Linked DNA regions of Homo sapiens. The protein of the gene in region 1 purifies or fractionates together with the protein of each later gene. This does not show direct contact. Each region holds a gene or a part of one and is shown in the gene's direction. Other genes may lie near its edges. The genes, in order: SPOCK2, SLC25A14, TPRKB and EME1.

Region 1 (3,009 bases):
ATACTTGGGTGTCTGTGTGTTCACCCCACCTCCTCTTCTGAATCCTGTTACTCCTCTCATGGGTCCCTAGGACTTCTTGGGGACCTCAGGTCATCCACAGCTGTGGAATGAGCTCCCCTAAATAGAGAGTGAGCGTTTTCGTGCCATAGAACCCTTGTACTTCCCACCCCTGCTGTGGGGTGACCCCGTGTCAGAAACGGGGTGTTTTCATCTTGCAGAGCCCCTGCCTGGGTCTCTAAGCCTTGAAGGGCTCAGTGCATCCCCCCAGCACCAGGGGACAGTCCCATCAGAGGCTGCTTCTCTCCCCACAGAGCCCCCCTGCCTGGCAGAGCTGGAGCGCATCCAGATCCAGGAGGCCGCCAAGAAGAAGCCAGGTGAGGGGCCAGACCAGGCTCTCAGAGGAGGAGGTGGGGACGGCTTCCTGGGTTTGTCTGAGACCCAGGGCCTCCAGCCTTGGGCCTCATGGCAGACATGGAGCCCAGAGGAGGCCCTGGCCTAGGAAGACAGAAGAGGGTTGCCCCCTTCCTGTGTCTATCCTTGTGGTGGGGCAGGGACTCCCAATCTGCCCCGGGAAAAGTGTGTTTTAGGCACTAATTTTATGCCCATCCATGCTGGAGCTAGAGTTTGGGATACAGAAGGATCCTGGAACCCTCCACTGAGTTCAGTTTCCTTCAGCAAGGGTGTGACTAATGTTTTAGTGAGGCCACTCCCTGAGTGACACTCACTCACATGCTCCATAAACACCTGGGGGCCGGCCCCAGAGATACAACAGCAATAGACCCAGCCCAACTCTGAGCGGATGGCAAGAAGGATGCACTCCCTGGCCTCATAACCCTTTAGCTCGGGCCAGTCCGGAAACACACAACACACAAATGGACACACTAAAAAGACAGAACTAGCAGTGTGACCTGTACACAGGCGCCTGGGAGCTTCAGCTGGGGAGCCTGCAGGAAAGCAAGTGGGCCCCGGAGGCAGGTCGGACTCAGAGTGGCTGGGAGGAGAAGGCTGGGCCTTCCTAGCAGGGGACAGCCAGGCCGGCGGAACTGTGGGAGGATGGAGAGTGTCAAACCTGGTGAAGTCAGACTGGCTGTCCTAGAAGACTTGGGCCATGGAGTCAGGGAAACTGATGGGGCGGCTGGGAGCTAGCACAGGGGCCTGAGCAGTGGTTCAAGGAAGCGGGTTTCCTCATCTCCAGCGAGTAGAGCCGAAAGAATTGCTGGCTGGTGTCCAGCTCTCAGCATCTGGGCCTGTTGGGGGGTCAGCACCCGGTCTGGCTGGGCTCTGGGGGTGTATAGACTTCTGCTCATGCATGAGGACCTGAGGTCACCTCTCTGAGGGGCCCACAGCCTGGGCCCCTGCTCTGACCCTGCCTGGCACTGTCTCATTCAGGCATCTTCATCCCGAGCTGCGACGAGGATGGCTACTACCGGAAGATGCAGTGTGACCAGAGCAGCGGTGACTGCTGGTGTGTGGACCAGCTGGGCCTGGAGCTGACTGGCACGCGCACGCATGGGAGCCCCGACTGCGGTACGGGCTGGGCAGCTCAGGGCCTGCTGGGGGCCCAGGCCTGGGGGCCCTTGTCGTGGGATGCTGGGGGGTGCGTGCCAGAAGCTCCCTCACCCCCTGTTGGCTTGATCCCCTCACAGATGACATCGTGGGCTTCTCGGGGGACTTTGGAAGCGGTGTCGGCTGGGAGGATGAGGAGGAGAAGGAGACGGAGGAAGCAGGCGAGGAGGCCGAGGAGGAGGAGGGCGAGGCAGGCGAGGCTGACGACGGGGGCTACATCTGGTAGACGCCCTCAGGAGCCGGCTGCCGGGGGGGACTCAACAGCAGAGCTCTGAGCAGCAGCAGGCAACTTCGAGAACGGATCCAGAAATGCAGTCAGAAGGACCCTGCTCCACCTGGGGGGACTGGGAGTGTGAGTGTGCATGGCATGTGTGTGGCACAGATGGCTGGGACGGGTGACAGTGTGAGTGCATGTGTGCATGCATGTGTGTATGTGTGTGTGTGTGTGGCATGCGCTGACAAATGTGTCCTTGATCCACACTGCTCCTGGCAGAGTGAGTCACCCAAAGGCCCCTTCGGCCTCCTTGTAGCTGTTTTCTTTCCTTTTGTTGTTGGTTTTAAAATACATTCACACACAAATACAAATTGACAGGTCAAAATCCATGAAATGAGATCCCCCAGCCGTGTCCTCCAGCCCAGCCCTGACCCCTTGGTTTCTACCCTGGCTCCCCTTGGTTTCTACCCTGGCTCAACCGACCCCTGTCTGCCCTTCTCCCTCTTGCTTCTGAGGTCAAGCTCTGGCCTGCGAGCCTGTCCCCATTGCAAAGGGGAGGGAGGGGCAGGGAGCTGTCTACCAGCTGAGGTCCTCCCAAAACTGGGCCGATGTGGTGTGACATCCCCACCAGCCTCAGATGAGACGGGCCAGGACGCCCAGCCACAGCAAGCCCTGTCCCTTTGCCGGATCCCCAAACACTAGAGAAGCTCTCCTAACCCAAGGCGGAGAATGAAGGTGGTGGCGGCAGAGGAGGAGGGCAGCAGCTGAGAGGCCAGGGACAGGGTGCCTCGCCAAGCTGTCTGAGGTCTGTCCCAGGTGGCCCAGGTGGTGCAGGTAGAACAGGGTGAGGAGAGGGGGTCGGCTCAGCAGGAGGAGGCTGTGGCTGCAGAGCCTGGGGGAGCTTTTAGGTGTTGAGATGGGGCAGCTCTGAATCCTAGACCCTGGAATAGCCTGTCCCTTTTCTCTGGGTCTCGTGGTGGAGCCATGATCTGGGCTGCTCTCTTGGGGACACTGGGTGGTGGTTACACAGTTGACCTCTGCCTGGCTCCCCCTTGGTGCAACTCCTGCCTCCATCCCCCTTGCTGGGGTCCCCTCATCCACTTGAGGGCGCCTGAGGGCCAGGAGCAGCAGGCAAGGAGCCTGGGTCTAGGCTAAGGGGGTGTGTGCCCACCTCCTCCCTGACCCTTAACACTCCTGTCCTGCCCAGACCAACAGAGAGAGCTGTCCCT
Region 2 (3,500 bases), on another chromosome or scaffold:
GAGATAGAGTCTTACTGTATTGCCCAGGTTTGTCTAGAACTCCTCCTCAAGTGATCCTCCTGCCTCACCCTCTCAAAGTGCTGGGATTACAGGCATGAGCCCCTGTGCCTGGCCTTCTTTTACTTAAAAGAAAAATCGTTATAGCCATCCTAGTAGGTATGAAGTGGTATGTCCTTGTGGTTTTGATTTGCATTTCTCTAGTGACTAATGATGTTTAGCATCTTTTCGTGTGCTTATTGGCCATTTGTGTATCTTTTTTGAAGGAAATATCTTCAGGTCTTTTGGCCATTTTAAAATTGGATTGTTTGCCTTTTTTGTTGTAAGAGTTATTTATATATTCTTGACACTAGTCCCTTATCAGATATATGAGCGGCAAATGTTTTTTTCCTTTGTGTATGTTGACTCTTCACTTTCTGAGTGGTGTCTTTTGAGTCATAAAAGTTTTTAATTGTGATGAAGTCCAGTTGATCTTTTTTTTTTCTTTTGTCTTTTGTGCTTTGGGTGTCATATCAATTATTTTATTTTTAGTATAGCAAGTGAATTGGAAATTTGTATATGTTCCATTATTAGTCATTGATTTGAAAGAGTGACGTCTGTACTTCAGACTTGTATTTTTCTGTTACTTTTCAACTCCTGACCTATTTTGTTCACTCTAAGACATCACTCCCTTTGTATTTCCTTGGTGCCTAATGTCACTTGTGTTTCGTAGGGTGTGGTTCCAACTGCTCAGCGTGCTGCCATCGTTGTAGGAGTAGAGCTACCAGTCTATGATATTACTAAGAAGCATTTAATATTGTCAGGAATGATGGGCGATACAATTTTAACTCACTTCGTGTAAGTAGGATGGGATGTGCTCATTTTATTTCCAGCATTTTGAGCACAAAAAGCCTCTTTTACTGAAATCCTCAGGTGGAATTTGATAACTGGTACGTATGGCCTAAATTCCCTTGTCTCTCCTATTATCAGAACTTCAAGCCTTATGAACACTTTATACTTCACAGAAATGCCAGGTGCTATGGGGGCTTGGGTACTTGGGAACATTGTCTAATACAGCAGCCTATCAGAGGTCTATTTGATTTACATTTATCCATACATAGCTTCTATATCTAATAAGCACATCTATTATTTGCTTTGGTTAATTTTGTTTGAGAAAGCAAACTTTTCTCAGTGGGAATCAGAAAAAAAGGGGTAAATAAGGTCTGTGAAACTAAAGCACAGTTTTTTGGCTAAAGACTGTTACTGATCTCATTTTACATTTTCTTTGTCTTGCAACCTTTATGATAATTTTGTTACTCAAATGCATTTGGCATGTGATGCTGTGGTTTGAAAAATTTATGTAACTAATACATGGTGCATGATACTTTCTACTTAGGAATCTTGTTAGGTTTAGAAACTCTCCTTTAAAAAAAAGGCTGAGTTTCAGATTGAAAATTGAAGGGACAGCCTTTGAATGATGTCTCTTTAGAAAAATTTCCTGTCTCTTTAGATTGTAACGAAAGGCCAAGTGCCAGGTTTTATCTGATGGGTCTGAGTTATATTGTACAGTTTACGTTTGGCCTAATTTCTGTTTAAGTGGGCAGGGAGTGAAAGTGGGGTCGATCTACTTAAACTTTTCCTCTTAGTTCCAGCTTTACATGTGGTTTGGCTGGGGCTCTGGCCTCCAACCCGGTTGATGTGGTTCGAACTCGCATGATGAACCAGAGGGCAATCGTGGGACATGTGGATCTCTATAAGGGCACTGTTGATGGTATTTTAAAGGTAAGTACATTGTGGATTTGGGTTACAATTTGGCTTTCTTTGATGTCTTAGACCTTCCTTCAGTTCTTATTATTAGTTGCTACATACCATTTTGAAGATGAAAGAATCATATTTTTTTAGTAGCTTCTCAGTTATTCCCAGGTAGAAAAGCTGTCTCCTTAGCAATCTGCTAATTTGCAGTGGTACTTAATATAATGATTCCCATTTGAATGCTTTAAAATACAGGATGCTTTTATTAATAGTATCATGTAGAATTATTGATAGAAAAGACAATATATCCCCCATTTGCCTACTTCATACAACACAGAGACCCTGCAATAGAAAACTCAATACTTAAGGAAAAAAGCCTGTATTTTATTTCAGTTCACGGTTATGCTGTTGTTCACTTTGGCTTTGAAAGTTCCTGCTGTTGTGTTTGTGGGAACTGAATATTCTAAAAGTATTACATCATTACTGGTGATATTATTGCTACTGAAAACAAATTGAGGCTAAAATATGATGTTGCCATATGGTTTCTCTCCTGTTATCAGTTTTGTTTAACAACTATTACATATTAGACACCATTTTAGTAGTTAGAGAGAAATTACAGTTATTACAAAAGTACTATAGGTATACAAACGGATCATCAGTACAGCCTGATAAGTGATAAACTCAAGAGTTCTCAATTTGGAAGCATTGAGGTAGGCTCCCTGTAGATGGTGGCATCTTGAATAACAATAACTCATATCCACTGAGTGCTTTTTTGTGTGTCAGCAACTGTCCTTATGAGACTTATGTGTATTCGTTCATTGAATCCTCACCATTACTCCACGAGGTAGACACTGAAGCACTGAAAGATTAAGTAAGCTGCCTAAGGTTTCACAGCTACTAAGTGGGAGAACTGGAATTTAAACTCAGATCACTTGACCTCAAACTGACATTTACCTCTCCACTATGGTGCTTTCCTCATATTGGTGGCCAAGGGTTAGATTATAAAGGATACTGAATGCTATATTGAGGTGCTTGGACTTTTTTTTAACTTGTCAGGGAGCTGTTGAAAGTTTTTAATCAGATTAGCTTTGCATTTTAAATAGATTACTTTGGCTTTATGGAGACTGGATCTACCACAGTGGTTCCTCATCTTGGGTACACATTGGAATCACTTGGGAGAACTTTCGCAGCTCCCTCCTCTACCTTAGACCAATTAACTCAGAACCTGGGGAGTAAGGTCCAGGTGTCAATATTTTAAACTATATCAGGTGACTGCAATGTTCACCTAAGGTTGAAGACTACTAAGGGGATAAGCCTGGAGCCATGGTTCTTCAAAGTTTAACATGCATCAGAATTACCTGGAGGGCTTGTTAAACTGCAGTTCACTTGGAGCCATCTCCAGATTCTGATTTAGTAAGTATGGAGTGGGACCTGGAAATTTGCATTTTTAATAAATTCCCAGGCAATACTGATGTTGCTAGTCTGGAGACCACACTTGGAGAACCACTGACCTACAGATAGGGAAGCTGATTAGAAGGCTCTTGTAATCTGAGAAAGAGGGGATGAAGGCCTGAACTTGAGCATGATAATGGAGATATAGAAGGTGGGACAGAGTCAAGAAAGAATTAGTTGATAGAGTCAGCAGGATTTGATTGACTGGATGTGGAGGGGTGTGGGAGAAAAGAGGTGTCAAAGATAAGTTCTGGGTTTTTGGAGTTGGTGACCAGGTGGTGACATTCATTGACAGAGGCATCACAAGAGGAGCACGTCTT
Region 3 (2,487 bases), on another chromosome or scaffold:
ATTAGGCGTGGATATTTTGTGTGCTAGCCTGCATATCATTCTCTCTTCCCGTAAACTCCTTGAGGGTGGGATCCATGTCTTTTTCATATACCAGGAACTTGCTTGTACCTATAACAGTCCTTAACACAGCCTCACTCACACACCCAGTACATAGGTAGAGTTTGTGGTTTGAAATACTTATAGTAATGCTTTTTCAATGAAAGTTATCAAGCTAAAGACATCACACATGTAGCACATGAAAAAAATGACTGCAATTTTGCTGATGAAGTTTTAGTATTACTGCTGCTGTTAATAACAACCAGGTACTAATGTCATCTACAGGAAACCTGTAGCATAGGTTAAAATACAGATGATTGACAAGTTTATAAAATGCAGTTATCTCAGCATGGTAATAGAGATTCCCAGTACCTGGAATAAAATTTACTAATTATGGTTTCCTTGAGATCATTAGACATAATTCAGAAAACTCTTGAATTCAGTAAACATCTGTTGAACTTTTTCCCCGTTCCATTTACAGTTCTAGGGGCAGAAGAGGCAAATATGTTCCTGAGGAGAGGCAGATAAACAAGACAAGTTAAAATGCCCTAAGATAAATGATATAATGGGAAAATGAATTCAAATCTAGGGGTACAGCAATGAAGCCATTCATTTTGGAGGGAGGAGGGTGTGGTGGGGAGTGGCATCAGAACTGTGGACCCTGAAGCATGTGTTCAGCAGCCAAGCCATGAGGAGAAGGGACATGCGAGCAGAGGACAAAGCTTGAGCACAGGCAGAAGGGCATGAAATGTGACTGGATCCCCAGGCAGGCTGGACTGGCCAGAAGGCAGAAGCGCCTGGCTGGAGGGCCACTTGGCACCAGAGGGAGGAGGTGTTTTTGTGCAGCGCCAAGAGGCTGGGCTTGATTCCATAGGAACAAGGCGTACCTTTAAGCAGGGAGTGCTTTTGAGGAAGTGCCAATGGATGTTGGAAAGGAATCATTAAAGTGAAAAAGTAGGCAGTGAGAACTGTTAGGACATGAAAAATAAGAGCCTGACCAAGGAAGAAGGCAGATCAGGAAATGTTTCAGACGTAGGAAACAATGGTTAATGATCTTGTGTTTTTTTTTTCATTTTTTTTCTCTTAGATTTCAGAGGCTTTGAAAAAATTTGGTATCTCAGCAAATGACACTTCAATTCTAATTGTTTACATTGAAGAGGGAGAAAAACAAATAAATCAAGAATACCTAATATCTCAAGTAGAAGGTCATCAGGTTTCTCTGAAAAATCTTCCTGAAATAATGAATATTACAGAAGTCAAAAAGGTTTGCCAGTCCATATTTTTAGAAAGAGTGTGATAGATGAGCAATAATGCTGATGCCGTTTGCCTATTGATCACCAGAGCTCCTTGTTTTTTGAACTTTTGAGAAAGTTAATCTAATTTTAAAAATTACTTAAAAATTACAGATACAAAGAACTGGGAGGTGTGATGGTTTATGTAAAATATAATTACAAACTCAGCTGACATAACCATTCTCCACATTAAGAAAGAGAATACCTTTAAATATCAAACTTACATAGTATATTTAAAATGTAAAATAAATTTAGTATGCTTTTAAAATGGATAGAAATTTGGTTTTTATGTTCTTGAGAGTTACTCCCATAGCAGCAATTTAAAGGGGATACAAGTAATGAATTGCCCTCTACTTTGAATATTTTAATCACATTTGTTGTTTGTTATACCATGAACCCAATAATTGAATGAGGAATAATTTCACTTACACATGTTTGTATAATGACAATTAGTAGTGAATGACGATATCAGCAAGTCATAATTTGTCTTTCATTTTTACAGATATATAAACTCTCTTCACAAGAAGAAAGTATTGGGACATTATTGGATGCTATCATTTGTAGAATGTCAACAAAAGATGTTTTATGAAATGTCAGAAATATTAACAAAAATTCTCAGCATTAAAGAAAACATTGATTTTCCTTTCCTGACTATAAAACTAATTGTGCATTATAGAAAAGTTTAAATCACAGAATGGTATTAAAAAAAAAAAAAAAAGGCCAGGCACGGTGGCTCACGCCTGAAATCCCAGCAATTTGGGAGGCCAAGGCAGGTGGATCACCTGAGGTCAGGAGTTCAAGACCAGCCTGGCTAACATGGTGAAACCCCATCTCTACTAAAATACAAAAATTAGCTGGGCATGATGGCAGGTGCCTGTAATCCCAGCTATTCGGGAGGCTGAGACAGGAGAATCGCATGAACCTGGGAGGCACAGGTTGCAGTGAGCTGAGATCGTGCCATAGCACTCCAGCCTGGGCAGCTGAGCGAGACTCCGTCTCAAAAAAAAAAACCAAAAAAAAAAAAAACAAAAAAACCACTTGTAGTCCTACCTCGTTGTATTTTAAAAGATAATCAGTTACTATTACTTGTTATTGCCTTCTAGAGTTCTGTTTCTATTCAAATATATTTTATTTTTATATAATTAGAATAAAAATTGCA
Region 4 (2,877 bases), on another chromosome or scaffold:
TCCCCTTACAATTACAGGATAAATATGCTTTTATTTTAAAGGATACTTATCAGGGCCCCAGCAGGAAGACAGATGGCACATTCAACTCAGGGTAATTAAAAGAAGATTGAATAAAGGGACTGTTTGCCAAGGCATGGGCAGGGTATGAGGAAACTACCAGTGACAGCATGGTACCTCACAGTAATAACAGCACAACTTAGGTTTTTCGACCTCAGTATTGTTGACATTTTAGATTGGAGAATTCTTTGTTTTGGGTGCTGTCCTATGATGTGCACAATGTTTAGCAGCATTCCTGGCCACTATCTACTAATGTACCCCTCTCAGTCATGACAATAAAAAATGTCTGCAGACACTGCCAGATGTCATTTGTGGGGAAAAATCACCCCCGGTTGAGAACCATTGGCATAGCTGTTACCATCCCTATGCCTGAAGGGATGAGGGGAAGGAGTGGTTAACAGAATTCAGGAGAGAGAAATGGAGAGAGGACCACCTTGAGCGAAGCTATGAGCTGCCACAGAGGGGGACAGCAAACCCTAGGTGACCCCACTGGGAGGGAGCCAGGGGAAAAATACCCTGACTTCACTTTTCTCCTTCCCACTAGTCCTCTCCTCGGGTCCCTGCTGGTGACACCCAGCTGGGAGCCAGAAGACATGTGGGCCCTGTGTTTTTTGTAGAGATTGCAGAGTGTAGCTTGTATTTTTGGTAGAGACGGGGTTTTGCCATGTTGCCCAGGCTGGTCTTCAACTCCTGAGCTCAAGCAATCCACCTGCCTCAGCCTCTCAAAATGCTGCGATTACAGGTGTGAGGCACCTTGCCTAGCACTAAGATTCTTTTTTATCTCACCAGAAGCATCTTGTATAAAATAAGAAAAAAGATTTTTTTTTCCTCTCTTTGATTTCTTTTTTGGATCTGATAACTTTCTCAGTAACACAGGACAGTTCCCCACACTTTTTACTCTGGGGGTATTAGCAAGCCTTTATATTCATAGAGCAGCTTACCCTCTCAAGGCACTCCCACATTCTCTCTTGTGTTTCCATCAGTCATCCTATGGGGTAGGACTTCTCCCCACATCACAGGTGGGGAAACTGGGGCTCAGAAAAGTTAAAAGCCTTGTTGAGGATCACAACGGGAATGAGAACCCAGAGCTCCCCAAACCTACACTTTGCTGTAATATAGGTCTTGCTTTGCTTATAGGGACCCAATCAGAAAACTTTCTATCAAAGTCCTGTTCCCCAATTACTCCATAATACTGTACTGCTGGAGGATTGTTGGCCTTGAGGCATCCTTGACTTTGATTATGCCCTACCTGTGATAAACAGGAGGTACTCTCATAGACTGAAGTTTCCCTTGTGATTCTTGTCTTTGTCACAAAAAAACCTATCTGTTTGTAAGGACCACTCGGCTCACAGCATCTGCCTTCAAAGCCAGAGTCATTTACTTGTACTAACCTTTGGAAGAGTTTCCCTTCCCTCCATTCCCGTATTCAAAATGGCCCCAGCCCCTTTCAACTTGCTATGTTCCTTTTTTCTCTCTTTTTTTTTTTTTGAGACAGAGTTTCACCCTGCTGCCCAGGCTAGAATGCAATGGCATGGTCTCGGCTCACTGCAGCTTCTGCCTTCTGGGTTCAAGTGATTCTTCTGCCTCAGCCTCCCAAGTAGCTGGGATTACAGGCGTGTACCACCACGCCCAGCTAATATTTTTGTATTTTTAGTAGAGACGGGGTTTCACCATGTTGGCCAGGCTGGTCTCGAACTCCTGACCTCAGGTGATCCGCCCGCCTAGGCCTCCCAAAGTGCTGGGATTGGGATTACAGGTGTGAGCCACCGTGCCTGGCCTGCTATGTTCCTTTTTTTTTTTTTGATGGAGTCTAGCCCCGTTGCCAGGTTGGGGTGCAGTGTTATGATCTCGGCTCACTGCAACCTCCACCTCCCAGTTTCAAGCAATTCTCCTGCCTCAGTCTCCCGAGTAGCTGGGATTACAGGCACGTACCGCCACACCCAGCTAATTTTTGTATTTTTAATAGAGATGGGGTTTTACCGTGTTGGCCAGGATGGGCTTGATCTCCGACCTCGTGATCTGCCCACCTCGGCCTCCCAAAGTGCTGGGATTACAGGCGTGAGTCACCGCGCCCGGCTGCTATGTTCCTTTCTTATTCACTGTCTCTGAGATGCAGGGCACCAAGACTGAATCATTGAGGGCTGGGAGGGACAGCGACACTGTTTCTTGCCACAGTGACTTCATTCCAGAAAGGATAATGCATAAGGGGTGGGAGTTAGTTCATTCACCCAGAAGACCTGGGCCACTCTCACAGGTGCTCAATACCTGCTGACCTCCCTCCCTGTGCTGTGTTCTGGGTACTTTGGCAGGACAGAGAGGACTGGGTGGAGGAGCCAACAGTACTGGTGTTGCTCCGGGCAGAGGCATTTGTGTCCATGATCGACAATGGAAAGCAGGTGGGCAGAGCCAGAGGGTGGGAGGACACGGAACAGAGGGCTGACTCTTACTAGGAAGCAAGTATTAATGCAGTTTCTGCCCCTTCATGCAGGGAAGCCTGGACAGCACTATGAAAGGGAAGGAAACGCTTCAGGGCTTTGTAACTGACATCACAGCAAAGACAGCAGGGAAAGCTCTGTCACTGGTGATTGTGGATCAGGAGAAATGCTTCAGGTTTGGATTTGCCCTGGTGATTTCATGTTAAAAGGGGCAGCTCTTGGGCCAAGGGGGGTGAGTTTAGTTTATTCATTGCAGATGTAGGTCACTCTGCAAGGTAGTCCATCTCTAACAAGTCCAGGGGGATGCTCTGGTCCAGTCTTCTTCTGTATCTTCTGCCTGACTTCAGCCTGGAGCTGCTGTTCTTTGATTTCCTCCCCTGCACCA

Evidence for each region.
Region 2: the proteins of SPOCK2 (region 1) and SLC25A14 purify together in Homo sapiens (affinity purification with mass spectrometry; one large-scale study listed by BioGRID and IntAct). This does not show direct contact.
Region 3: the proteins of SPOCK2 (region 1) and TPRKB purify together in Homo sapiens (affinity purification with mass spectrometry; one large-scale study listed by BioGRID and IntAct). This does not show direct contact.
Region 4: the proteins of SPOCK2 (region 1) and EME1 purify together in Homo sapiens (affinity purification with mass spectrometry; one large-scale study listed by BioGRID and IntAct). This does not show direct contact.

What each region holds. Positions count from the first base shown.
Region 1 is NC_000010.11:72,061,543-72,064,551, reverse strand, and holds part of SPOCK2 (testican-2 isoform 2 precursor), read left to right. Parts: intron 1-311; coding exon 312-374; intron 375-1,389; coding exon 1,390-1,527; intron 1,528-1,646; coding exon 1,647-1,792; 3' UTR 1,793-3,009. UniProt on the Homo sapiens protein: May participate in diverse steps of neurogenesis. Binds calcium.
Region 2 is NC_000023.11:130,363,919-130,367,418, forward strand, and holds part of SLC25A14 (brain mitochondrial carrier protein 1 isoform 1 precursor), read left to right. Parts: intron 1-709; coding exon 710-834; exon of another isoform or gene 835-1,622; coding exon 1,623-1,758; intron 1,759-3,500. UniProt on the Homo sapiens protein: Transports inorganic anions (sulfate, sulfite, thiosulfate and phosphate) and, to a lesser extent, a variety of dicarboxylates (e.g. malonate, malate and citramalate) and, even more so, aspartate and glutamate and tricarboxylates.
Region 3 is NC_000002.12:73,729,373-73,731,859, reverse strand, and holds the end of TPRKB (EKC/KEOPS complex subunit TPRKB), read left to right. Parts: intron 1-1,123; coding exon 1,124-1,300; intron 1,301-1,830; coding exon 1,831-1,917; 3' UTR 1,918-1,987; downstream 1,988-2,487. UniProt on the Homo sapiens protein: Component of the EKC/KEOPS complex that is required for the formation of a threonylcarbamoyl group on adenosine at position 37 (t(6)A37) in tRNAs that read codons beginning with adenine.
Region 4 is NC_000017.11:50,376,229-50,379,105, forward strand, and holds part of EME1 (structure-specific endonuclease subunit EME1), read left to right. Parts: intron 1-2,366; coding exon 2,367-2,453; intron 2,454-2,545; coding exon 2,546-2,667; intron 2,668-2,839; coding exon of another isoform or gene 2,840-2,877. UniProt on the Homo sapiens protein: Non-catalytic subunit of the structure-specific, heterodimeric DNA endonuclease MUS81-EME1 which is involved in the maintenance of genome stability. In the complex, EME1 is required for DNA cleavage, participating in DNA recognition and bending.